Homo sapiens: one gene and its partners. The protein of the gene in region 1 purifies or fractionates together with the protein of each later gene. This does not show direct contact. Each region holds a gene or a part of one and is shown in the gene's direction. Other genes may lie near its edges.

Region 1 (8,035 bases):
CAAAGATGCCAAAAAACTAATAAAAAATGTTCTATTTGTGAAATCAGTTATTATAGGTTATTTCTTTAAAAAATGCGACTTAGGTTTTTTAAATCTGCTTAGAAATTTTTTGGTAGGAGATATTCAAAGTATGGCCAAACATAAAACTAAATTAAAAAAAAATCAGTATCACCTACTTTTGAAAACACTTATACTGTTGTGGTTCTGTTTTTTATTTATTTTATTTTATTTTATTTTATTTTATTTTATTTTATTTTATTTTATTTTATTTTATTTTATTTTCCGAGATGGAGTCTTGCCCTGTTGCCCAGGCTGAAGTGCAGTGGCATGATCTCTGCTCACTGCAACCTCCACCTCCCAGGTTCAAGCGATTCTCCTGTCTCAGCCTCCTGAGTAGCTGGGATTACAGGAGCGCGCCACCTCCCTCTGCTAATTTTTGTGTTTTTAGTAGAGATGGGGTTTCGCCATGTTGGCCAGACTGGTCTCAAACTCCTGACCTCAGGTGATCTGTCCGCCTCAACCTCCCAAAATGCTGGGATTACGAGCGTGAGCTACCGTTCCTGGCCGGTTCTCTGTCCTTTAAAAATATATTTTAATATTCTGAGCAAAGAGATTAAGAATGTTACAAACACATCAACCGTGCGTATAGTAAGTCTTCCCTTCCTTTTAAAAATAGCACATTGCTTGCCTCTGATGGTACCATATATGATAGTCTGATGCTCAGAATGTTATGCATTTGTAGTAATACTTAGTTCCGACATGGCTGTTTCATACTAATTGTTTGCTAGATTTTAAAGATCTCTAAAGTTTCTTCAGTATTAAATTAATTTTTGTAAAATCAACAGGTTTATAATCCATTCTCATAATACAGGGATGGATAAATCATTCTTACTGTGTATATGTTATTTGTATGAGTGCAGATGTGTTATGTCAACTGCTATCCATCCTGACATTTTTAAACTTCAGAGCTATAGGAGACCTTAGACATTTGCCCTCCTCATTTTATGGGTTAGGAGTCCGATCCTGTAATGCACTGAGATTTCTCAGTTTCAGAGAAAAGTCTATCCTTTGGTCAAGGATATACTTTTTTTTTTTTTTTTTTAAAGGAAAAGCAGTACAATATTGGAATAGATGTTGCAAGTGTTGATGTGCAGTTCTCAAAGATAATATTAAACATTTTGTCATAGAATGCCCACATTTCGGCTCAGTGATATAAAGCTGAGGTTTTTTTTTTTTTCTTTTCCATTTTGCTAAATTACTGCTTGTATTAGCACAACATAATACAAAGTCTTAGTAATTTTATTACAGAATACCAAAGCAGCTGTTCTTTATGCTTTACGGAACATATTCATTCGAAAAGTGTGAAGCTAAAGAGTATTATGGTTGATCATGTTCTATATCACTATGGCAAAAATTTGAGGTAACTTAAATTTGGAAGAAATGAGTTAAAAGGATAGAAAGTTGTCAGAATCAGACAGCTAGTTCCTCTCTTTCTAGACCCACACAGTCTTCTTTGTTTCCAGAGATGTCTGCTGCATGTTTCTTACCACGCATTACCTTTCACTGTTTTGGCATGCTTGTGACCAAGTGTACATGCATTTATTCGTTAAATGTTTACTGAGGACCTGTTATGAGCCAGGCACTATTCTATGCATTTGGGCTAGGCAAGGAACAATATAGAGAAAATCCTTTCTTTCATAGAGCTTACATTATAGTTATTAGCTTAAGACAAAATAAACATGTAAATTATATGGCATAACTAGAAGGTTATAAACGCTGTGGAGAACAGTGAATTGGGAGGGAATAAGAAGTGCCAGGATATGAGGGCATGGGTTGCTTTTTTTTTTTTTTTTTTTGAGACGGAGTCTTGCTCTGTCACCCAGGCTGGAGTGCAGTGGCGCGATCTTGGCTCACTAGGGGTCGCAGTTTTAAATATAGCAGTAAAGGAAGGCCTCACTGAGAAGGAGCAAAGGAGAAGGAGTTAGCCATGCAGATACTCTGGGCAGAGCATTCCAGGCAGAGGGAACATAGCCTATGTGAAGTGTCTAAGATGGGAGCATGCCTAGAGTGTTCAATAAATCACCAGGAGAGCAGTGTAGCTGTAACGGAGTAAAAGAGTTGGAGAAGAGTAAGTATAATATGAGGTCAGAAAGATATGGAGCCAATGGGGAGAGAGCATGTAGGACTTCATTGACTTTTATAGTGAGATAGGGAGCTATGGGAGGGTTTTGAGCTGACGTGAGACATAAATTGTCTTGATATGCAGCCAGCTTTCTGTATTTGTGGGTTTCGCATCTGTGGATTCATCCAATGTCAGATGGAAAATACTTGGAAAAAAATAGATGATTACCTCTGTACTGAACATGTACAGCCTTTTTTTCTTGTCATTATTCCTCAAACAATACAGTATGATGACTACATAACATTTATGTTATAATTATTCTAAGTAATCTAGAGATAATTTAAAGTACAGTTGACTCTTGAACAACATGGGTTTTTGAACTACATGGGTCCACTTACACATGGATTTTTTTCTTCAATAAATATATTGAAAAAAATTTTGGAGATTTGCAGCAATTTGAAAAAACTTGCAGATGAACTGTGTAGTCTAGAAATAGTGAGAAAGTTAAAAAGTTATGTCATTAATGCATAAAATATATGTAGATACTAGTCTTTTACTCACTATCATAAAATATATACAAATCTGTCATGAAATGTTAAAATTTATCAAAACTTACACACACAAACATGTAATGGAGACTGTACATGGCACCATTCACAGTTGAGAGATGTAAAGAAACTTAAAGATACAGTATTAAATCATAACTGCATGAAATTAACCGTAGTGCATACTGTGCTACTGTAATAATTTTGTGGCCACCTTCCGTTGCTGTTGTTGTGAGCTCAAGTGTTGCTGTTGTTGGAGCTCATCTCTCCAGTAAATTGTATATGGTAAAAAGTATCTCTCTGGATTCTCTTGTATTTTTCATTGCATTTAGTGCAGTACCCTAAACTTTGAATAACATGATGGGATCCATATGAGGTGCCACTAAGTGATGCTGGAAGTGCTCCAGGAAGCTGAAAAAAGGCATGACATTATGAAGAAAAAGTCGAATTGCTTCATATGTGCCATAGATTGAGGTTTGTAGCTGTGGTTGCTGGCCATTTCAGAATGATTTATCTTGTAAACAGACAGGTATCAATAAATATGGTACAGTGCTGTAAATGTAATTTCCTTCTGATTTTCTTAATTTTTTTCTCTAGCTTTATTGTAAAAATAAAGTATATAATATAGAATACAGTATATAATATTACAATACATATTGTAAGAATGCAGCATATAATACAGTACGCAATACATATAATACAGTTTATGCATTCATGGCATAATTTTATTTTTTTTGCTCCTTCTAAGCTACACAGTTCATCTTTTTTTAAATTGTTGTGAATTTCCAAAAAATTCTCCAATATATTTATTGAAGAAAGAAATCCGCGTATAAGTGGACCCATGTAGTTCAAACTGTGATGTTCACAGATCTGTACTTTAAATAATCTCCTGAGTACTCATAATACCTAGTATAATGTAATACAAAGGCTGGGTGCGGTGGCTCACGCCTGTAATCCCAGCACTTTCGGAGGCGGTGGCAGGCAGATCACCTGAGGTCAGGAGTTCGAGACCAGCCTGGACAACATGGCGAAACCCTGTCTCTACTAAAAATAGAAAAAATTAGCTGGATGTGGTGGCGGGTGCCTGTAATCCCAGCTCCTTGGGAGGCTGAGACAGGAGAATGGCGTGAACGTGGGAGGCGGAGCTTGCAGTCAGCCGAGATCGCGCCACTGCACTCCAGCCTGGGCAACAGAGCAAGACTCCGTCTCAAAAAAAAAGTAGTACAATATGTGTATTAATCTACTGTTTATGTTGTATTATGTTATGGGAAGGCTTCTGGTCACCAGTAGGCTGTTAGTAGTTTTCCATTAGTAGTTTTTCGGGAGTCAAAAGTTGTATGTGTGTGTGTTTTTTTTTTTTTTTTTTTTTTGAGACAGAGTTTTGCTCTTTTTGCCCAGGCTAGAGTACAGTGGCACCATCTCAGCTCATTGCAACCTCCGCCTCCCAGGTTCAAGCGATTCTCCTGCCTCAGCCTCCCGAGTAGCTGGGATTACAGGCATGCACCACCATGCCTGGCTAATTTTGTATTTTTCGTAGAGATGGGGTTTCATCATATTGGCTTGAACTCCTGACCTCAGGTGATCCATCTGCCTCAGCCTCCCAAAGTGCTGGGATTATAGGCGTGAGCCACCGCGCCCGGCTGTATGTGGATTTTTGATTGTGCAGGAGGTCGGTGCCCCTAACTCTTGTTCAGGGGACTCCTGTATATGGAAGGATGTGCATAGGTTACTTGGAAATACTATGCTGTTTTACATAAGGGACTTGAGCATCTGTGGATTTTGGCACCTGTGGACTTCCTGAAACCAATCCCCCAGGGTTACTGAGTCTATCTCTTTCCTGGTTAAGACAAGTTTTTGTTTGTCTTAAATTCAAATTTCTGGAAGCTACAATCTCACTGGCTCATCTTGGGTCAGTTGCTTATCCTTTTGATCCAGGTAGCTGGGTGGTGGTGGGAAAGGTAATGGAAGAATAAGAATCATGACTGGCTGTGTCCATTCTTGAGCTGGTAAGACAGTGCAAAAGAGATCTGCTATATTGCTCAATTAGAATACTTTTTAGACTGAAGCCCTGTGAGTGATTATTGCTGGGCTATCCTCTTCCAGATGCCTACTTCCCATTTCTTCCAGGCCAGGCTTACTTTAGTGGGTTTTACTTCTGTCCTGTAAGACTATGAAGATCACTTATTTTTAGTATAATACAGTTAGAACAGAAAGAGTTCTTGAAAAGTGAATAGGAAGTAAGAACCCCCCAAGGGAAAACTTAATAATTCAGACTATATTTTAGAATGCTGTTGCAGTAGGCTAGATGAGATATAGGAGTTACATTAAGGTAGAGGGAATGGAAAGAATGGAAAAGAAGAAATAGACCAAGGTAGAATTAATAGAACATAGTAATTGAAGAGGTAATATAAGGAGGAGGAGTTAAAAATGATTGATTTTTATATTATTTCAAATGGGAATGGAAAGAGATAAGTAGTTCAGTTTTAGATATTGTTTTAGTTTGCAGGGGCTGCTGTAACAAAGTACTACAGATTGGGTGCTTAAGAGAAATTTGTTTTCTCAACTCTGGAGGCTAGAAGTTTGAGATGAAGGTGTTGGTAGGCCTGGTTTCTTCTGAGGTCTCTCTCCTTGGCTTGTAGATGATTGTCTTCTGTGTCTTCATGTAGTCTTCTCTCTGTATGTCTTCATGTAGTTGTCCCTCTATGTCCTAATCTCTTCTTTTTTTAAAGACGCTAGTCATATTGGATTAGGGCCTACTCTAAGGACCTCATTTTAACTTAATTACCTCTTTAAAGATCCTGTCTCCAAATATAGTTACATTGTGTATACATGCAGGTTAGGGCTTCAACACGTGAATTACGGGGGGAGGGGCAGTGCAATTCAGCCCATGATAGACATGAATTCTTGAAGGCTTGGAAGACTGAAGCATTCCCTGTACACTTATTTTTTATAACTTAACTTCATTATAATATCTTTTTTTTTTTGAGACGGAGTTTAGCTCTTGTTGCCTAGGCTGCAGTGCAATGGCGCGATCTCGGCTCATGGCAACCTCCGCCTCCTGGATTCAAGGGATTCTCCTGCCTCAGCCTCCCGAGTAGCTGGGATTACAGGCATGCACCACCACACCTGGCTAATTTTGTATTTTTAGTAGAGATGGGGTTTCTCCATGTTGGTCAGGCTGGTCTTGAACTCCTGACCTCAGGTGATCCGCCCACCTCGGCCTCCCAAAGTGCTGGGATTACAGGTGTGAGCCACTGTGCCTGGCTGTAATACACTTTTTACTTTCCTGTCTCTCTCCTTCCCTTCTGTCACCTCTTAATGTATTCTGTAAAGATGGAATCAGGTTAATAAAGTATAATTTACACACAAATTTACCCTGTTTAGGGTGCAGTTCTGTTATAACACTTTTGAAATAGAATATTGGAGATTCCATGTCTTTTTTGATTACTTCCCCATTTACCAAATATTGGGTACATGTCTACTACGTATCTAGGACCTGTGCAACAATGTTTTCTGCATGTTTCATTTCTTCATTCCAAGTCCTTGAAAAGTGCCAAGAGGCATTTCTATTGAATGGAACAGTTTGAAGAGCATTGATGTAGCTAGAGTAGTGGTTTTCAAAGCTTTGTCCCAAGACCCCTTTACATTCTTAAAATTGAGGACCCAAAGGACTTTTGTTTATGTGGGTTTTATATGTAAAGATAGATATTTACCATATTAGAAATGAAGAATGAATACAAATTATTTAGAATATTTAAAAGTAACAATAAACTCAATATATGTTAATAAAAATAACGTTATCTGGATTATTATAAGACAATTGGATTCTCATCTCTCCCTTTGCAGTCACTTTGTTAAGTGTTTTGGTTAGTGTATATAAAAACTCGGCATCACACAGATTTATAGCTTGAAAAGGGATGAATATTTTCAGATGTTTGTATGTTCTTTGATACTATGTCAAAACTTGACAAGTGGTAGTTTCTTAACGTATCTGAAAACATGGCAGTCACCTTAAAAAATTAAATTAACTGTTAAATTAAAATCCATTTGTCTGGTAGTGTAGGATAGAGTCCAGAAATAGATCCACACATACATGGACAGTTGATTTTTGGACAGAAGTGCAAAAGCAATTGCATAAAATATAAAGGATATCGTTTTTCAACAAATGGCACTGGAATAGTTGAATAGCTGTAGGAAAAAAAAAAGAACTTTGAGCTATAGCTTGTACCATATACCAAAATTAACTCAAAGGGCTGTTAGACCTCAATGAAAAACCTAAAACTATGAAACTTCTAGGGGAAAATATAGGAGAAATTCTTCGGAATCTTGGGTTAGACCAAGATCTCTTAGGTATGACTCCAAAAGCATGATCCATAAAAGAAGTGGATAAATCAGATGGCATCAAAATTCAGAATTTCTTTCAAAATTAGAAAGACACTTAACAGAATGAAGACAGGATACAGAAGATGTATCTTATAAGGGGCTTGGAGTATATAAAAAATTCTCAGAACTCAGTAATAAGAAAACAATAACTCAGTTTTTAAAATGGTCCAAAGATTTGTATAGACACTTCACTAAAAAATACATGTACATGGCTATTAAGCATATGCAAATATGCTAAGCATCATTAGTCAAAACCATAATGAGACACCACTTCACACCTGCTAGGATGGCTATAATCAGAAAGAACAGGTAAGTGTTGGTGAGCATTGTAGAAAAATTGGAACCTTCATTTGTTACGCTAGGAATGTAAGATAGTGTGACTGATTTTGGTAATTCCTCAAAAAGATAAGCTGAGTAACCATATGACCCAGAAATTTCATATACCCAAGAGAATTCAAAAAATATATTCACACAAAAACCTGTATATGAGTTAGCAGTATTATTTATAATAGCCAAATAGAAACAACCCAGTGTCCATCAACTGATGAGTAGATAAATGTGATCTATTTGTAAAATAGAATATTACCCAGCAGTTCAAAGGAATTAAGTACTGATGCATGGTACAACTTGGATAAATCTCATAAACATTAGGATAAGTGAAATAAGCCAGTCACAAAAGAACATATTTTCTATGATCCTATTTGTGTGAAATGTCCAGAATAGGCAAATCTATATATAGAGAAATTAGTGGTTGTCTGGAACTGGGGAGAGCAGATGGAGTAGGAAGTATCCACTAATAGTTACAGGGTTTCCTTTTGGGATGATGATAATGTTCTAAAAGATTATGGTGATGGTTGCGTAACTGTAAATATACTTAAAACAATTGAAGTCTTTAAATTGGTGAACTTTATGACATATATCTGAATAAAATTGTTAATTAAAACTACTGTGAGATATCATTACATACCTATTAGTGTGGCTAAAA
Region 2 (9,014 bases), about 120 Mb from region 1:
CCAAAGTGTTGGGATTACAGGCGTGAGCCACTGCACCTGGCCTAAAGACTTTTTTCAAAGCATAAGCACAGTACCACTATTACAATTTAAAAAATCAACAATGTTTATAAGTATCAAGCATCTAGTGTTAAAATTGTCCTAACTGTTCCAGCATTTTAAAAATGTTTTTTAGTTGTTATTTATTTTTATTTTTATTTATTTATTTATTTTTTGAGAGGGAATCTCGCTCTGTTGCCCGGGCTGGCGTGCAGTGGCAGATCTCCACTTACTGCAACTTCCGCCTCCCGGGTTCAAGTGATTCTCCTGCCTCAGCCTCCCGAGTAGCTGGGACTACAGGGGTGAGCCACCACGCCCAGCTAATTTTTGTATTTTTAGTAGAGGCGGGGGTTTCACCATGTTCGCCAGGATGGTTTCGAACTCTTGACCTCATGATCCGCCCACCTCGGCCTCCCAAAGTGCTGGGATTACAGGTGTGAGCCACGGCGCCCGGCTATTTCTTTTTATTGAAGTATAATTTACATATCATAAATTTTACCCATTGTTAATTTTGTGTGTGTGTGTGTGTCTATCCAATTAATCTAGCACAATTTGGTGGAAAGACTATCCTTTCCATTTTTTTTTTTTTTTTTGAGACGGAGTCTGGCACTGTCACCTGGGCTGGTGTGCAGTGGTGCGATCTCGGCTTGCTGCAACCTCTGCTTCCCAGGTTCATGCCATTCTTCTGCCTCAGGCTCCCAAATAGCTAGGATTACAGGCGCCCGCCACCACACCCGGCTAATTTTTTGTATTTTTAGTAGAGATGGGGTTTCACTGTGTTAGCCAGGCTGGTCTCAAACTCCTGACCTCGTGATCTGCCTGCCTCGGCCTCCCAAAGTGATGGGATTACAGGTGTGAGCCACTGCACTGGCTATCCTTTCCATCTGGAATTGCTTTGTCATGTTTACTGAAGATCAGTTGACTGTAGATGTGTAGGTGTATATCTGGGCTAACTTGTCTAATTTGGTGATCTGTCTGCTAATACCTATGCCGATACCACAGTCTTGATTACTGTAGTTTAATTAAAGTTTTGAAATCAGGTAATGTAAGTCTTCCTACTTTTTCAAAATCATTTTGGTTGTTTCATATAGATTTTAGGATCAGTTTGTCAATTTCTACAAATCTCTAGGATTTTTTTAGGAGTTGTATCTATAGATCAATTTGGACAGAATTGCCATCATAACAATATTGTCTTTCAATCCAGAACATAGTATGTCTCTCCACTGATTTTCATCTGTCTTGATTTCTTTCAGCCGTGTTTTTTATGTTTTAGTGTATAAAACTTGAACTTCTTTTGTTGAATTGAGTCTTAGATATTTTATTATTTTTGATGCTACTGTGAATAGAAGTTTTTTTTGATTTTTGGTAGCATATATAAATATAGTCTGTTTTCTGCATAGTGACCTTCTATCTGGCAACCTTCCAAAACTCACTTATTATCTCTGGTAGTTTTTGTTGTTGTTTTTGTTAATTTTTAAATTATTAAAAAAATTTTTTGGCCGGGTGCAGTGACTCATGCCTGTAATCCTAGCAGTTTGGGAGGCCAAGGCGGGTGGATCACCTGAGGTCGGGAGTTTGAGACCAGCCTGACCAATATGGAGAAACCCTGTCTCTACTAAAAATACAAAATTAGGCAGGCGTGCTGGCGCATGCCTGTAGTCCCAGCTACTCGGGAGGCTGAGGCAGGAGAATAGCTTGCACCCGGGAGGCAGAGGTTGCGGTGAGCCGAGGTTGCGCCATTGCACTCTAGCCTGGGCAACAAGAGTGAAACTCTGTCTCGAGGAAAAAGAAAAGAGAAAAAAAAATTGCCAGTACATAGTAGGTGTATATATTTATGGAATAAATGAGTTTCTTTTTGTTTTTGTTTTTTGAGACAGAGTCTTGCTCTGTTGCCGAGGCTGGTGTGCAGTGGCAGGATCTCGGCTTATTGCAACTTCCACCCAACCGGGATTCTTTTTTTTTTTTTTAAGAATCGGAGTCTCACTCTGTTGCCCAGCCTAGAGTGCAGTGGCCTGATCTTGGCTCACTACAACCTCTGCCTCCCGGGTTTAAGCAATTCTCCTGCTTCAGCCTCCCGTGTAGCAGGGACTACAGGCACATGCCGCCATGCCTGGCTAATTTCTATTGTATTTTAGTAGAGACGGGGTTTCATCGTGTTGCCCAGGCTGGTCTCGTGAGCTCAGGCAATTCACCAGCCTCAGCATCCCAAAGTGCTAGGATTGCAGGACTGAGTCACCGCACCCGGCCACCCCCCGGGTTTTAAGTGATTCTCCTGCCTCATCCTTCTGGGTAGCAGGGATTACAAGCATGGGCCACCATGCCCGGCTAATTATTGTATTTTTTAGTAGAGATGGGGTTTCACCATGTTGGTCAGGCTGGTCTCGAACTCCTGGCCTCAAGTGATCTGCTCACCTTGGCCTCCTAAACTGCTGGGATTACAGGGTTGAGCCACCGCGCCTGGCCCAGAGATGTTTGGATACAGGCATGCAATGTGAAATAAGCATATCAGGGAGATTGGAGTATCCATCCGCTCGAGAATTTATCCTTGATTTACAAGTAATCCAATTACATTCTCTTTTTTTTTTTTTTTTTTGAGATGGAATTTCGCTCTTGTTGCCCAGGCTGGAGTGCAATGGCGTGATCTCGGCTCACCACAACCTCCGCCTTTCGGTTTCAAGCGATTCTCCTGCCTCAGCCTCCTGAGTAGCTGGGATTACAGGCATGCAGCCACTATGCCCAGCTAATTTTGTATTTTTAGTAGAGACGGGGTTTTTCCATGTTGGTCAGGCTGGTCTTGAATTCCTGACCTCAGGTGATCAGTACGCCTCGGCCTCCCAAAGTGCTGGGATTACAGGCATGAGCCACTGCGCCCGGCCGACTAGTTTTAAAAAAATTTTGTTAGCAGTGTGAACTCATAGATGTTAACATATGCAGTGTATTTCAGTCTATTGAAATTTTTCATTTTTATGCTCAAATCATCCCATCTTTGGCAAGTAGGAGCCAGTTTGGTTCCTCAGTCATTCTAAATGACCGTAGTACCCTGGTATTCTTTTATTTATTTATTTACTTATATATTTAAGTTTTGCATTTTGATATAAGATGTCCCAGACTCACAGAAAGGCCTTTTGAGATAGCAAGACAAATTTGGCGGATTTAATTTCAGCCAAAGGAAGAGAATAATGTCAGCTTTTCTTTCCTCACCCCCAGAAATTTGATAGAAACCAGGACAATTGTGAAGGCAGTTTTCTCACTGAAAAGAAGTGCACGTTGGTGGTGAGACAGTTAAATAAGGATTCTAACCTGTGGACTACATTTGTTGTCATTAGAGGGGGTATATACAGTATTTATTCAAAGACGCTCAAGCCTGTAATCCCAGCCCTTTGGGAGGCCGAGGCGGGAGGACTGCTTGAGCCCAGGAGTTTGAAATCAAACTGGGTCAAACAGTGAGACCTCATCTCTAGAAAAAAATTTAAAAACGGGGTGGGAAGATCGCTTGAGCCCAAGGGGTTGTGGCTGCAATGAGCCATAACTGAGCAATTGCACCTGGGTGACAGCGAGACTGTGCCTAAAAAAAAAAAAAAATTGAAAGACAATTCTAACATCCAATTCTAACATCTAATTCTAACATCTGTAAGCGTATCTGTCCCAAACACAGAGCTAAAGTAAAAACACAGGAAGGGGCCGGGCGCAGTGGCTCATGCCTGTAATCCCAACACTTTGGGAGGCCAAGGCGGGTGGATCACCTGAGGTCAGGAGTTTGAGACCAGTCTGACCAACATGGTGAAACCCCATCTCTACTAAAAATATAAAATTAGTCGGGCGTGGTGGCGCATGCCTGTAATCCCAGCTACTTGGGAGGCTGAGATAGGAGAATTGCTTGAACCCGGGGAGGTGGAGATTGCAGTGAGCCAAGATCGCGCCATTGCACTCCAGCCTGGGCAACAAGAGCGAAACTCTTGTCTCAAAAAATAAAAAAATCAAACAAACACACATACAGGAAAGGAAAGGAGATAATAAAAAGGAAGGAGTAGTAACCACAGGGCATCCATGTTGGAGTATCCAGATCAGCTTCCTTTTCATTAGTCATAAATCCTTTTGGTGCTCTGTCCTGTTGGCTTTTCATGCACCTTCAAATCATGTATGGGGGTATGAGAAAGATAGTTTAAAAAGGAAAGGTTTGTTGTTCCACTGTTAGGGGTGAGGGAGGTACTTAGCGAAATGATGACTAGTAATAAGCTCTAGAACTGTGGGCTCTTTTATCCATGTCCATTGTTTCATATTCTTCTGGACCCACAAGATGGCACTTGAGGATCTACAACAGCAAAACCATACCAACGTATTTAGAATAAAAGAATCATCCACAGGGACAGATTAATGATGCATCTTTCTGGCCTAACAGTGTCTTTTTGATGGGCATAGAGATAAGGGGACTATGGCCACACCATCAGAATTGTATTATTCAATTAATAATGCCTACCACTTTGAAATGCTTCCTGTGCCCCAGGACACTGTGCTCATCACTTTACATCTCATTTCATCTATAAGACTCTATATAACGTCATTTCCACTTTACAGCTGAAGAAACTTAACTTTAAGTTACATAACCTGCTGACTGTGAACTATCACATGTGCTGAAGTTGGGATTCACCAAGCGGCCAAAAAGCACAGGTTCCCCTTACCATTGCTATGTTAACCAATAGACTGATGTATTTTAAATCAGTTTCTATTTTTTCAACCTCATAAGTTTGAAAAGCTGCACTCTGCACTGATTTAGCACTGACTGGTGGCTGCTTAAAGCTTGCCTTATTCCATTTTAGCAGGCCCCCCGGCAAAATACCCCAATTAGTGGTGTCATCCTCTCTATTCCAAGAATTTTCTCTTAAGACTCCCGCTCTGTGCGTTTGCTTGGGAATGCAGAGCCCTGTTCCTCATCTCCCCATCTATGCTTTCTTCATTCTAAGCCCTTTCCTATCTACTTTATGCTCGAGGTGGCTCCACCTCCACCATGAGCCAGAGCCAATGATGCTCACGGCCCCAACCATGATTAAAAAGAGATTGCCCTGCAAGGTAAATCAGTTAAAACCAACCTCTCCTGCCCTGAGTGGATAGGTAGGGTTAGGGTTGCCAGATGTCACGAAGTTACAGGATGCTCAGTTTTAAGGTATATCCCTTATACTATAAGGGTTATAGTAAAAAATATTCATTATGTGAAATTCAAATATAACTGGGTATCAGGTATTCTATGTGGCAACCCTAGGTAGGGGAGCACAGGTTAGGCAAGCGATTAGAAGATTTGCAGCCTCCAAAGTTTCTGCACCTCGATGGGACACTAGAACAGGAAGGCTCCTGGGCCTTTCTGGCTCTGGGAATGAAGCGTGGAAAACCCTCCTTAGGCGGGCGCAGTGCTTCAAGTAGCCAAGCTCTGACTTCCGAGGGAAGAAAGGAGGCCATGGGCCTCTGCCAGAGCCATGCTCTGCACTCTGGGGTCAGCAGAGTTCAAAACGACCTGCAACGTCTGGCGCTTAGCTCCTAAAGAGGTCTCCAGTCCAGCGCCGACGGCCAGCGGCTAGAGGCCGTCCGCCCGACTCCAAGATGGCGCCCGCCACAGCTGCCAGGTGTTAAGATGGCGGCGCGGGGCCGCGCCCGCGCTCCCAGGCTCTCCTCCCCCAGCCTTCCTCCGGCTGGCAGCACGACTCGCGTAGCCGTGCGCCGATTGCCTCTCGGCCTGGGCAATGGTCCCGGCTGCCGGTCGACGACCGCCCCGCGTCATGCGGCTCCTCGGCTGGTGGCAAGTATTGCTGTGGGTGCTGGGACTTCCCGTCCGCGGCGTGGAGGGTGAGTGTGGGCCGGGGGCGGTGCATGAGATGATGGGGCGAGCTGAGGTCCACCCGGGCGACGCTCTGGACCTGCGCGAAGGCCGGCGGTGCGCGACTCGCCCCTTCTTGGCGTCTCCCCGGGCGCGTCTCCCCGACTTCTCTCCCCGCGCACCGCCCGCTGGTGGCCCGCGAAAGGGGGCCGGTGGGCTGAGGGCCGGTGGACGGGAGCCCGGGGGTGGTTGGGCCGCGTTCAGGCCGCCCTCAGCCCGTGGCTGGTAGCCAGGAGGGACAGTGCGGTAAGCGCTGCTGAGGCATACCCTCTGGTGATAAGCAATTTATTATTAATAACATTATATCAAATACCGACATTGTTGTGGCCGTATTAGGAGCCAGGAACTGTGCATCGTGCTTTATTTACATCATTATCCCATTTAATGCTCCCACAAACCCTGTCAGATCGGTTCCGTTTAGTGTCTCCATTTCACAGATGAAGATGCTCAGGCCCCGCCTAAGTTTGCGCTTCTGATACGTGGCAGAAGCCTGTCTCTCTGACGCCAAAGCCCAGTCTGGAGTCCACGCTGCTGGACCACTGTCTTAAGGAGGCCAGTCTTGCTCAGCTCCCTGCATGAAAAACAGACGAGAAACACGGGAGACTCCCGGTAACCCCCAACTTGCCGGTAGGGAAGGCAGCCACTCTAGAGGCATGGCGAGGGTGGAGAGTGGAGGCCTTACTTTCATGCTCCTTCACCCCACTCCTCATAGTCCTGTTAAAGTCCAGACCCTCGGTCTCGCTTGTCATTTAGACCTTAACAGGAATAGGCAGGTCTTTCTTTTCCCTGGGGTGTCCTGGATGGAGGCAGGACAGCAGAGAGTTGTGGAGAAGGGTGAGTCATAGTAACACAATTACCATGAATGAAAGCGCTCACTGTGTACCAGATGCTGTGCTCAGTGCTTTACGAGCATCATCTTTTGGAATCTTTACTGTTTTGTTTTTGTTTTTTTAAGGGATGAGGGCTTGCTCTGTTGCCCAGGCGGGAGTGCAGTGGCCCATCATGGCTCCCTGCAGCCTTGAACTCCTGGGCTTAAGTGATCCTCCCACCTGTTTCCCAAAGTGCTGGGATTACAGATGTGAGCCACTGCTCCCGGTTTATGTAATTTTTATTTTTATTTTTTTTTGAGATGGAGTCTCGCTCTGTTGCCCAGGCTGGAGTGCAGTGGCGCGATCTTGGCTCACTGCAACCTCTGACTCCCGGGTTCAAGCGATTCTCGTGCCTCAGCCTCCTGAGTAGCTGGGATTACAGGTGCCTGCCACCACACTGGGCTAATTTTTGTATTTTTAGTAGAGATGATGGTCCACCATGTTGGCCACGCTGGTCTGGAACTCCTGACCTCAGGTGATCCACCCACCTCGGCCTCCCAGAGTGCTGGGATTACAGGCTTGAGCCACCGTGCCTGGCCTTAGTAATTTTTAAATGCATATGCAGTAGATGTTATCATGCTCATTTTATAGAAGTAACTTAAGACTCAGAGCCAATAAGTCCTTTGACAAGGTCATACAGCCAGAAGTTGAGGAGCCTTGATTCAAGCCCATGTCTGCCTGACTTCAGAGCCCAACCTCTGCATTTTCACTATACTTAACTGCTAGCCTCACAGAGGGGATGGCATGGGTTGGATATCTTCTGTTTCAGCCCCTCCACCGTGCTCTGTGCCCTGTGTGGCTGTCCTGTGTGGAATAAATACCAGCTGTCCTACCGTCTTGCTTCCATTGTGTTGGAATGAGGGGAGAGTGAGGTCAGGGTATTGATTCTCTCCGCTCCCTCCCTGAGAAGTTATTGAAGGCTGGCTTTGCCCCCGGTGGAAAGCATTGAATTCTAGAAAGCTGCCCTCTGTGTTACCCTTGATGTTTCAAGGTTCTGTGACTACTTCTCTCTCCAGACTCTTAAGGTCTATGAGTGGTAACTGGCTCCTCCTCTACTGTTACTGGCCTTGGAATTCCTTACCATTGCTTTTCATTTCTCTGCACCCAGCCTACACATTAGTGGTCCCTTCATTAAACTCTCCTCAACTTGCCCAAGTTAAATGTGCTGTTTCCTGGCAGAACCCTGGCTGATTCAGGGTTCAGCTTGGGTCTTTGGTCATCATGGCCAGGCCATGAATGGGGTGAAGACAGAAGAAACTTCACCAGCTGATTTCTTCTCAGAGTAGCTGAAAATCTGAGGTGTTTTTTTTTTTTTTTTTTCTGCAGAGGATGCCACTGGCAGATTATGCTGGCCTCAGGTGCTGAGGCCCTGAGAGACTAAGCAACCTGGAGGTAGCAATGCTATCCAGGTGTCTAGGAATGGAAGCAAACTCCTGGCTTCAATACCCCTATGCCACTCTTCCCTAGGCAGTCAGCTAGCAAATTCTTACTGAGCACTCATCATATGCTAAACACTGTGCTGAGCACTGGGGATCCAGTGGTGAGTTAGAGCAGCAGGCCTTTGGGGAAGGCAGCCACTAAATAACTACAAATTACTAAGAAAATTGCAAGACTGAGAAATGCATCAAGGAGAGTCCCAGGGCGTTTTTGGGAACTGTAATGGGAGACCTCCCACCCTGGTCTGAGGGTCAGGGAATGTGTCCTTACAGAGGTGACATTTAGGGTGAGATCTGAATGAGGAGGATGAAGGATTTGGCAGGAGGAAGCTTCCCAGCAGAGAAACAGCCCTCAGGAAGGCTCTAAGGCAGGTGGGGATAGGAGGAGTGTAAATGATCAGGGACTAGAGGGATCTGATGGCCACAGGTGAGAGTGCAGACAGAGGCCACATTGGGGCCTGGTAGCTCTGCTACAGAATGCAGATGCATTCACAGGGTAGGGGAAGCCACTGAAAGAGTTTTAGCAGGGGAGTGACATGATCAGATATGCCTTTTATCTTTCAGTTTCACTTGTATTGCTGTGAAGGTCAGGGTCTGGAGGGGGGATAGCAGGCTGACCAGGGAGACCAGTTTAGGTGGCTACAGTAGTTGCCCAGACAAGAATTGGCTGTGGCCTTTGCTGAGAAGTGTTAGTTGGGATGGGGAAAGTAGATGGATTGTGAATGTGTTTAGCAGGTGAAATTTTTTTTTTTCTTTTTGAGAAGGAGTCTTGCTCTTGTCACCCAGGCTGGAGTGCAGTGGCACCAT
Region 3 (6,516 bases), on another chromosome or scaffold:
TTTATGAAAATACAGGAAATATTTTAAAAATAGGCTAGAAAACTCACTATTAAAATATATAAAATATAAGAACATCTGTTCATCAAAAGTACTATAGTTTGAATAGCAGTGTCTCCTCCAAAATTCATATTGAAACTTAATCCCCATTGTAACAGTACTAATCCTAAAACTAAGTATTAAGAGGTGTGACCTGTGGGAAGTGACTAAGTCATGAGGGGTCTTTCCTCAGGTATGGGATTAGCATCCTTATAAAAGGCCTTGAGATGGAATGTAGTGCCCCCTTGCCCTCTTGCGTTCTCCCATGTGAGGACACAGCAACAAGGCACCATCTTGGAAGGAGAGAGAAGCCCTCACCAGACAACAGTGCACATGCCTTGATCTTAGACTTCCCAGCCTCCAGAGCTATAATAAATACATTTCTGTTCTTTATAAATTACTTGGTCTCTGGTATTTTGTTACAGAAGCACTAATGGACTAAGACAAAAAGATTCCATTATGAAAGTGAAAAGGCAACCGCAGAGTGGCAGAAGCTTTTGGAGATGATGAATATGTTTACTTCCTGGATTGCGGTGATGATACCATGAGTGTATACATATGTGTGTATACATAATGTATACAAATTGTGTTCATTGATTATGTACAGTTTCTTTGTATACCAATTATACCTTAATAAAGCTAAGGAAAAAAAAAAGAAAATCCAGAATAAATATGCATGGTATGACCCATTTATTTAAAAAAAAAAAGAGGGAATGCGAAGCAGTGGTTTTGGTGCGAACACAAAAATTCTGGCTTCAACAGCATTTAAATTCCCAAACCAAGCATGTTTGTGTTTTAATTCTTTGTGGCCATAAATTGTACAGCTCAGGCCTTTATAGTCTCTCAGATTCTGTGAATGTGGGGAATTAGTTTTACTCATAAAAAGTTTTGTTCTTGGGGATAAATTTTTTAAAAAAATTTTTGTATAGTTAGCACACTGAGAAAATACAGACAAAGGCATACAGATGCAAGAAATGAGGTAGCTGAATAGACCAAAGAATGATATAGGGCCCAGAAGGTAGGCAAAGAGAAAGTTGTTGGGTTTATGGTTACAAGTAAACTAGCAGTTGTGGTGCAGATAGTTTTATTTCCCCCACATTAATCTGAACAGCCCATCCAGACTTAAACACTGCTTTTTGCATTTACTTCTAGGCAGGAAGACAGGGTTCTGATGGTGTGAGTCTCCTTCAACTCAGCAAACCACCTTGGTCTGCCTCGAGTTTCCAACACCCCTCCTGCCTGCTAGTGATAGGTGTGAGGCAGGTTGATGAACATGGAACTTTTTTCTTTTGGTCCCAAAGCATGCTACTCCTGGAGTTTCATTCAGTGAATGAGAACTATAGTTTGGTTCTGTGAGATCTCTATGAATCAAGGCGGCCACTGAAGCGGAGAAAAGAAATGCTTAAATGTTAAGAAAGTTTGAAGTGCAGAAAAAGGTGATTGTAAATCCATATGGTTAAGCTTAGCCCATTTCTTAAAAGGCTTGATTGCTCATTCCTCCATTCATTGATTTACTCACTCTTCCAATCCATGTTATTGAGTCTTGCTCTGTAATTCCGGATGGTTGTGCTTTTAAGTACTGCATAGTGGTTGTATGTCTGTGTTAGCATTGCTGAATGTATCAGGGAATTCATTTTTTTATCCCCATTCATTCGTTCCATTCATCTGTTTCTCTCTCTCTCTCTCTTTGTGTGTGTGTGTGTGTGTGTGTGTGTGTGTGTGTGTGTGTGTGTTATGCCTAGAAAACATTTCTCAAGAATTAGAATTACGATATGCTGTCAAACACAATGACTTATTTGAACCTCTTTTATTTGTAGGTTGAAGCACTGGACAATGCCACATACTTTGTGGATGGTGTGGGTCTTGGGGGTCATCATCAGCCTCTCCAAGGAAGAATCCTCCAATCAGGCTTCTCTGTCTTGTGACCGCAATGGTATCTGCAAGGGCAGCTCAGGATCTTTAAACTCCATTCCCTCAGGGCTCACAGAAGCTGTAAAAAGCCTTGACCTGTCCAACAACAGGATCACCTACATTAGCAACAGTGACCTACAGAGGTGTGTGAACCTCCAGGCTCTGGTGCTGACATCCAATGGAATTAACACAATAGAGGAAGATTCTTTTTCTTCCCTGGGCAGTCTTGAACATTTAGACTTATCCTATAATTACTTATCTAATTTATCGTCTTCCTGGTTCAAGCCCCTTTCTTCTTTAACATTCTTAAACTTACTGGGAAATCCTTACAAAACCCTAGGGGAAACATCTCTTTTTTCTCATCTCACAAAATTGCAAATCCTGAGAGTGGGAAATATGGACACCTTCACTAAGATTCAAAGAAAAGATTTTGCTGGACTTACCTTCCTTGAGGAACTTGAGATTGATGCTTCAGATCTACAGAGCTATGAGCCAAAAAGTTTGAAGTCAATTCAGAATGTAAGTCATCTGATCCTTCATATGAAGCAGCATATTTTACTGCTGGAGATTTTTGTAGATGTTACAAGTTCCGTGGAATGTTTGGAACTGCGAGATACTGATTTGGACACTTTCCATTTTTCAGAACTATCCACTGGTGAAACAAATTCATTGATTAAAAAGTTTACATTTAGAAATGTGAAAATCACCGATGAAAGTTTGTTTCAGGTTATGAAACTTTTGAATCAGATTTCTGGATTGTTAGAATTAGAGTTTGATGACTGTACCCTTAATGGAGTTGGTAATTTTAGAGCATCTGATAATGACAGAGTTATAGATCCAGGTAAAGTGGAAACGTTAACAATCCGGAGGCTGCATATTCCAAGGTTTTACTTATTTTATGATCTGAGCACTTTATATTCACTTACAGAAAGAGTTAAAAGAATCACAGTAGAAAACAGTAAAGTTTTTCTGGTTCCTTGTTTACTTTCACAACATTTAAAATCATTAGAATACTTGGATCTCAGTGAAAATTTGATGGTTGAAGAATACTTGAAAAATTCAGCCTGTGAGGATGCCTGGCCCTCTCTACAAACTTTAATTTTAAGGCAAAATCATTTGGCATCATTGGAAAAAACCGGAGAGACTTTGCTCACTCTGAAAAACTTGACTAACATTGATATCAGTAAGAATAGTTTTCATTCTATGCCTGAAACTTGTCAGTGGCCAGAAAAGATGAAATATTTGAACTTATCCAGCACACGAATACACAGTGTAACAGGCTGCATTCCCAAGACACTGGAAATTTTAGATGTTAGCAACAACAATCTCAATTTATTTTCTTTGAATTTGCCGCAACTCAAAGAACTTTATATTTCCAGAAATAAGTTGATGACTCTACCAGATGCCTCCCTCTTACCCATGTTACTAGTATTGAAAATCAGTAGGAATGCAATAACTACGTTTTCTAAGGAGCAACTTGACTCATTTCACACACTGAAGACTTTGGAAGCTGGTGGCAATAACTTCATTTGCTCCTGTGAATTCCTCTCCTTCACTCAGGAGCAGCAAGCACTGGCCAAAGTCTTGATTGATTGGCCAGCAAATTACCTGTGTGACTCTCCATCCCATGTGCGTGGCCAGCAGGTTCAGGATGTCCGCCTCTCGGTGTCGGAATGTCACAGGACAGCACTGGTGTCTGGCATGTGCTGTGCTCTGTTCCTGCTGATCCTGCTCACGGGGGTCCTGTGCCACCGTTTCCATGGCCTGTGGTATATGAAAATGATGTGGGCCTGGCTCCAGGCCAAAAGGAAGCCCAGGAAAGCTCCCAGCAGGAACATCTGCTATGATGCATTTGTTTCTTACAGTGAGCGGGATGCCTACTGGGTGGAGAACCTTATGGTCCAGGAGCTGGAGAACTTCAATCCCCCCTTCAAGTTGTGTCTTCATAAGCGGGACTTCATTCCTGGCAAGTGGATCATTGACAATATCATTGACTCCATTGAAAAGAGCCACAAAACTGTCTTTGTGCTTTCTGAAAACTTTGTGAAGAGTGAGTGGTGCAAGTATGAACTGGACTTCTCCCATTTCCGTCTTTTTGATGAGAACAATGATGCTGCCATTCTCATTCTTCTGGAGCCCATTGAGAAAAAAGCCATTCCCCAGCGCTTCTGCAAGCTGCGGAAGATAATGAACACCAAGACCTACCTGGAGTGGCCCATGGACGAGGCTCAGCGGGAAGGATTTTGGGTAAATCTGAGAGCTGCGATAAAGTCCTAGGTTCCCATATTTAAGACCAGTCTTTGTCTAGTTGGGATCTTTATGTCACTAGTTATAGTTAAGTTCATTCAGACATAATTATATAAAAACTACGTGGATGTACCGTCATTTGAGGACTTGCTTACTAAAACTACAAAACTTCAAATTTTGTCTGGGGTGCTGTTTTATAAACATATGCCAGATTTAAAAATTGGTTTTTGGTTTTTCTTTTTTCTATGAGATAACCATGATCATAAGTCTATTACTGATATCTGAATATAGTCCCTTGGTATCCAAGGGAATTGGTTGCAGGATCCTCGTGGATATCAAAATTCATAGATGATCAAGTCCCTTATAAGAGTGGCATAGTATTTGCATATAACCTGTGTACATTCTCCTGTATACTTTAAATCATCTCTAGATTACTTATGATACCCAATACAATGTAAATACTATGTAAATAGTTGTACTGTCTTTTTATTTATATTATTATTGTTATTTTTTATTTTCAAAATTTTTAAAACATACTTTTGATCCACAGTTGGTTGACTTCATGGATGCAGAACCCATGGATATAGAGGGCCAACTGTAATCTGTAGCAACTGGCTTAGTTCATTAGGAAACAGCACAAATGAACTTAAGATTCTCAATGACTGTGTCATTCTTTCTTCCTGCTAAGAGACTCCTCTGTGGCCACAAAAGGCATTCTCTGTCCTACCTAGCTGTCACTTCTCTGTGCAGCTGATCTCAAGAGCAACAAGGCAAAGTATTTGGGGCACTCCCCAAAACTTGTTGCTATTCCTAGAAAAAAGTGCTGTGTATTTCCTATTAAACTTTACAGGATGAGAAATACTAGAGGGTGTATTTTCATGTGATCTGGATCTGTCTTTCTGGCTATTAGATAGGTTTCTCCAGCCATAGTTACTTGAGAGAGTGAGTACACAGTGCAAGGTACAGTAAATTATGTATTTCTGTAATTTAACAAAATAAATACTCAGTTTAGGAGAATTTGAAAGACACTTCCCACATCCGGACTCTGGTCTTCCTCAGCCTCTAACTACCTTTTGAGTTCTAGTTATTGTCCAATCACTCTGACTCTCAGTTCCTGTTTTTTAGCCTATATCTCCTGCATCTTGTTGCTTTTTCCTTCTTCGAAAAGTCTTGTTTTTAATTCTAAAAAAGCCTGCCCTTTTTCCCCTTCTGAATATTTTAAAAAGTACATGTGAGCTAAATAGATTTTTAAGCAAATATATACCTAGAGTTTCCTCATAATGACTCAAAAATAGTTTGATACACAGTAATTTAAAGGTAGATACTACTACCATATGTTAATTTTGCAATCTAGGTATAATAATACCACACATTAAATTTTGATGCAACTTTCTTTGGTAAGCACTATTTGCTGATTCTATGTAACTTTCTTAAGCTGGGAACCATGTGAAAGGAAGTGAGCCTTTGACCCCTGCTCAATTCTCAACCAGAACTGGGTGTATGTGGTTAATTGGGCACTAGAGTCAGAAAGACCTGGGTTAGTAGATGTGTAATCTTTGGCAAGTCAGTTGACATGACCCAAAAAGTTTTTCTGTCTTTAAAATAGGGATGATGATCTCTATATCCTAAGATACTGAGAGTATGAAATGTAGGAATGTAAGTAAACCATGAGCCTAAGCTCCTTGATTCCCATTTTCTCTGGAGGGGTGTTGAGGGCAAGAGTACCACGCCTAAGAGAATGGGCACTATGGGTTCGTGTGTGGGGTGAGGGTGATGTCTGTAGTAGATGTTAGCTATTATTATTATTTTCCAAGAAGATATTTCATTCCCTTATATATTATGGCTTGTAAGTGGATATTTTTCTGTTATGGATACTAGCAGGGATATAAGGGATCCTGCTGTTTGCAGAAAAATACCACAAAGAAATATATGCTCATTAACTGCAGAACAAGCTTGTCCTTGGGGAACTCGCATAGGGCTGCTGCTGTTTCACACGACCTCCCAGAAGAGTGTTATGGAGGAAACGGTAGCCAGCCTTAAAAAAAATCAGGCTTGGTGTAATCCCAGCACTTTGGGAGGCTAAGGCAGGAGGATTGCTTGAGTCCAGGAGTTGGAGACCAGCCTGGGAAACATGGCAAAACCCTGTCTCTACCAAAAAATACAAAATATTAGCAGGGCATGGTGGCATGTGCCTCTGGTCCTAGCTACTCGGGATGCTGAGGTGGGAGGATCACCTGAGCCCGGGAGGTCCAGGCTGCAGTGAGCTGTGATTGCACCACTGCACTCCAGCCTGGGTGACAGAGGAAGACACTGTCTCAAAAA

Evidence for each region.
Region 2: the proteins of MARCHF6 (region 1) and TXNDC15 purify together in Homo sapiens (affinity purification with mass spectrometry; 4 studies listed by BioGRID and IntAct, with this or other methods). This does not show direct contact.
Region 3: the proteins of MARCHF6 (region 1) and TLR2 purify together in Homo sapiens (affinity purification with western blotting; 2 studies listed by BioGRID). This does not show direct contact.

What each region holds. Positions count from the first base shown.
Region 1 is NC_000005.10:10,356,130-10,364,164, forward strand, and holds part of MARCHF6 (E3 ubiquitin-protein ligase MARCHF6), read left to right. Parts: intron 1-8,035. UniProt on the Homo sapiens protein: Endoplasmic reticulum membrane-associated E3 ubiquitin ligase that plays a critical role in mitigating endoplasmic reticulum stress, the regulation of cholesterol and lipid homeostasis, and ferroptosis.
Region 2 is NC_000005.10:134,868,660-134,877,673, forward strand, and holds the start of TXNDC15 (thioredoxin domain-containing protein 15 isoform 1 precursor), read left to right. Parts: upstream 1-5,711; 5' UTR 5,712-5,768; coding exon 5,769-5,871; intron 5,872-6,171; exon of another isoform or gene 6,172-6,473; intron 6,474-6,584; exon of another isoform or gene 6,585-6,739; intron 6,740-9,014. UniProt on the Homo sapiens protein: Acts as a positive regulator of ciliary hedgehog signaling. Involved in ciliogenesis.
Region 3 is NC_000004.12:153,701,039-153,707,554, forward strand, and holds the end of TLR2 (toll-like receptor 2 precursor), read left to right. Parts: intron 1-1,188; exon of another isoform or gene 1,189-1,853; 5' UTR 1,854-1,869; coding exon 1,870-4,224; 3' UTR 4,225-5,222; downstream 5,223-6,516. UniProt on the Homo sapiens protein: Cooperates with LY96 to mediate the innate immune response to bacterial lipoproteins and other microbial cell wall components. Cooperates with TLR1 or TLR6 to mediate the innate immune response to bacterial lipoproteins or lipopeptides.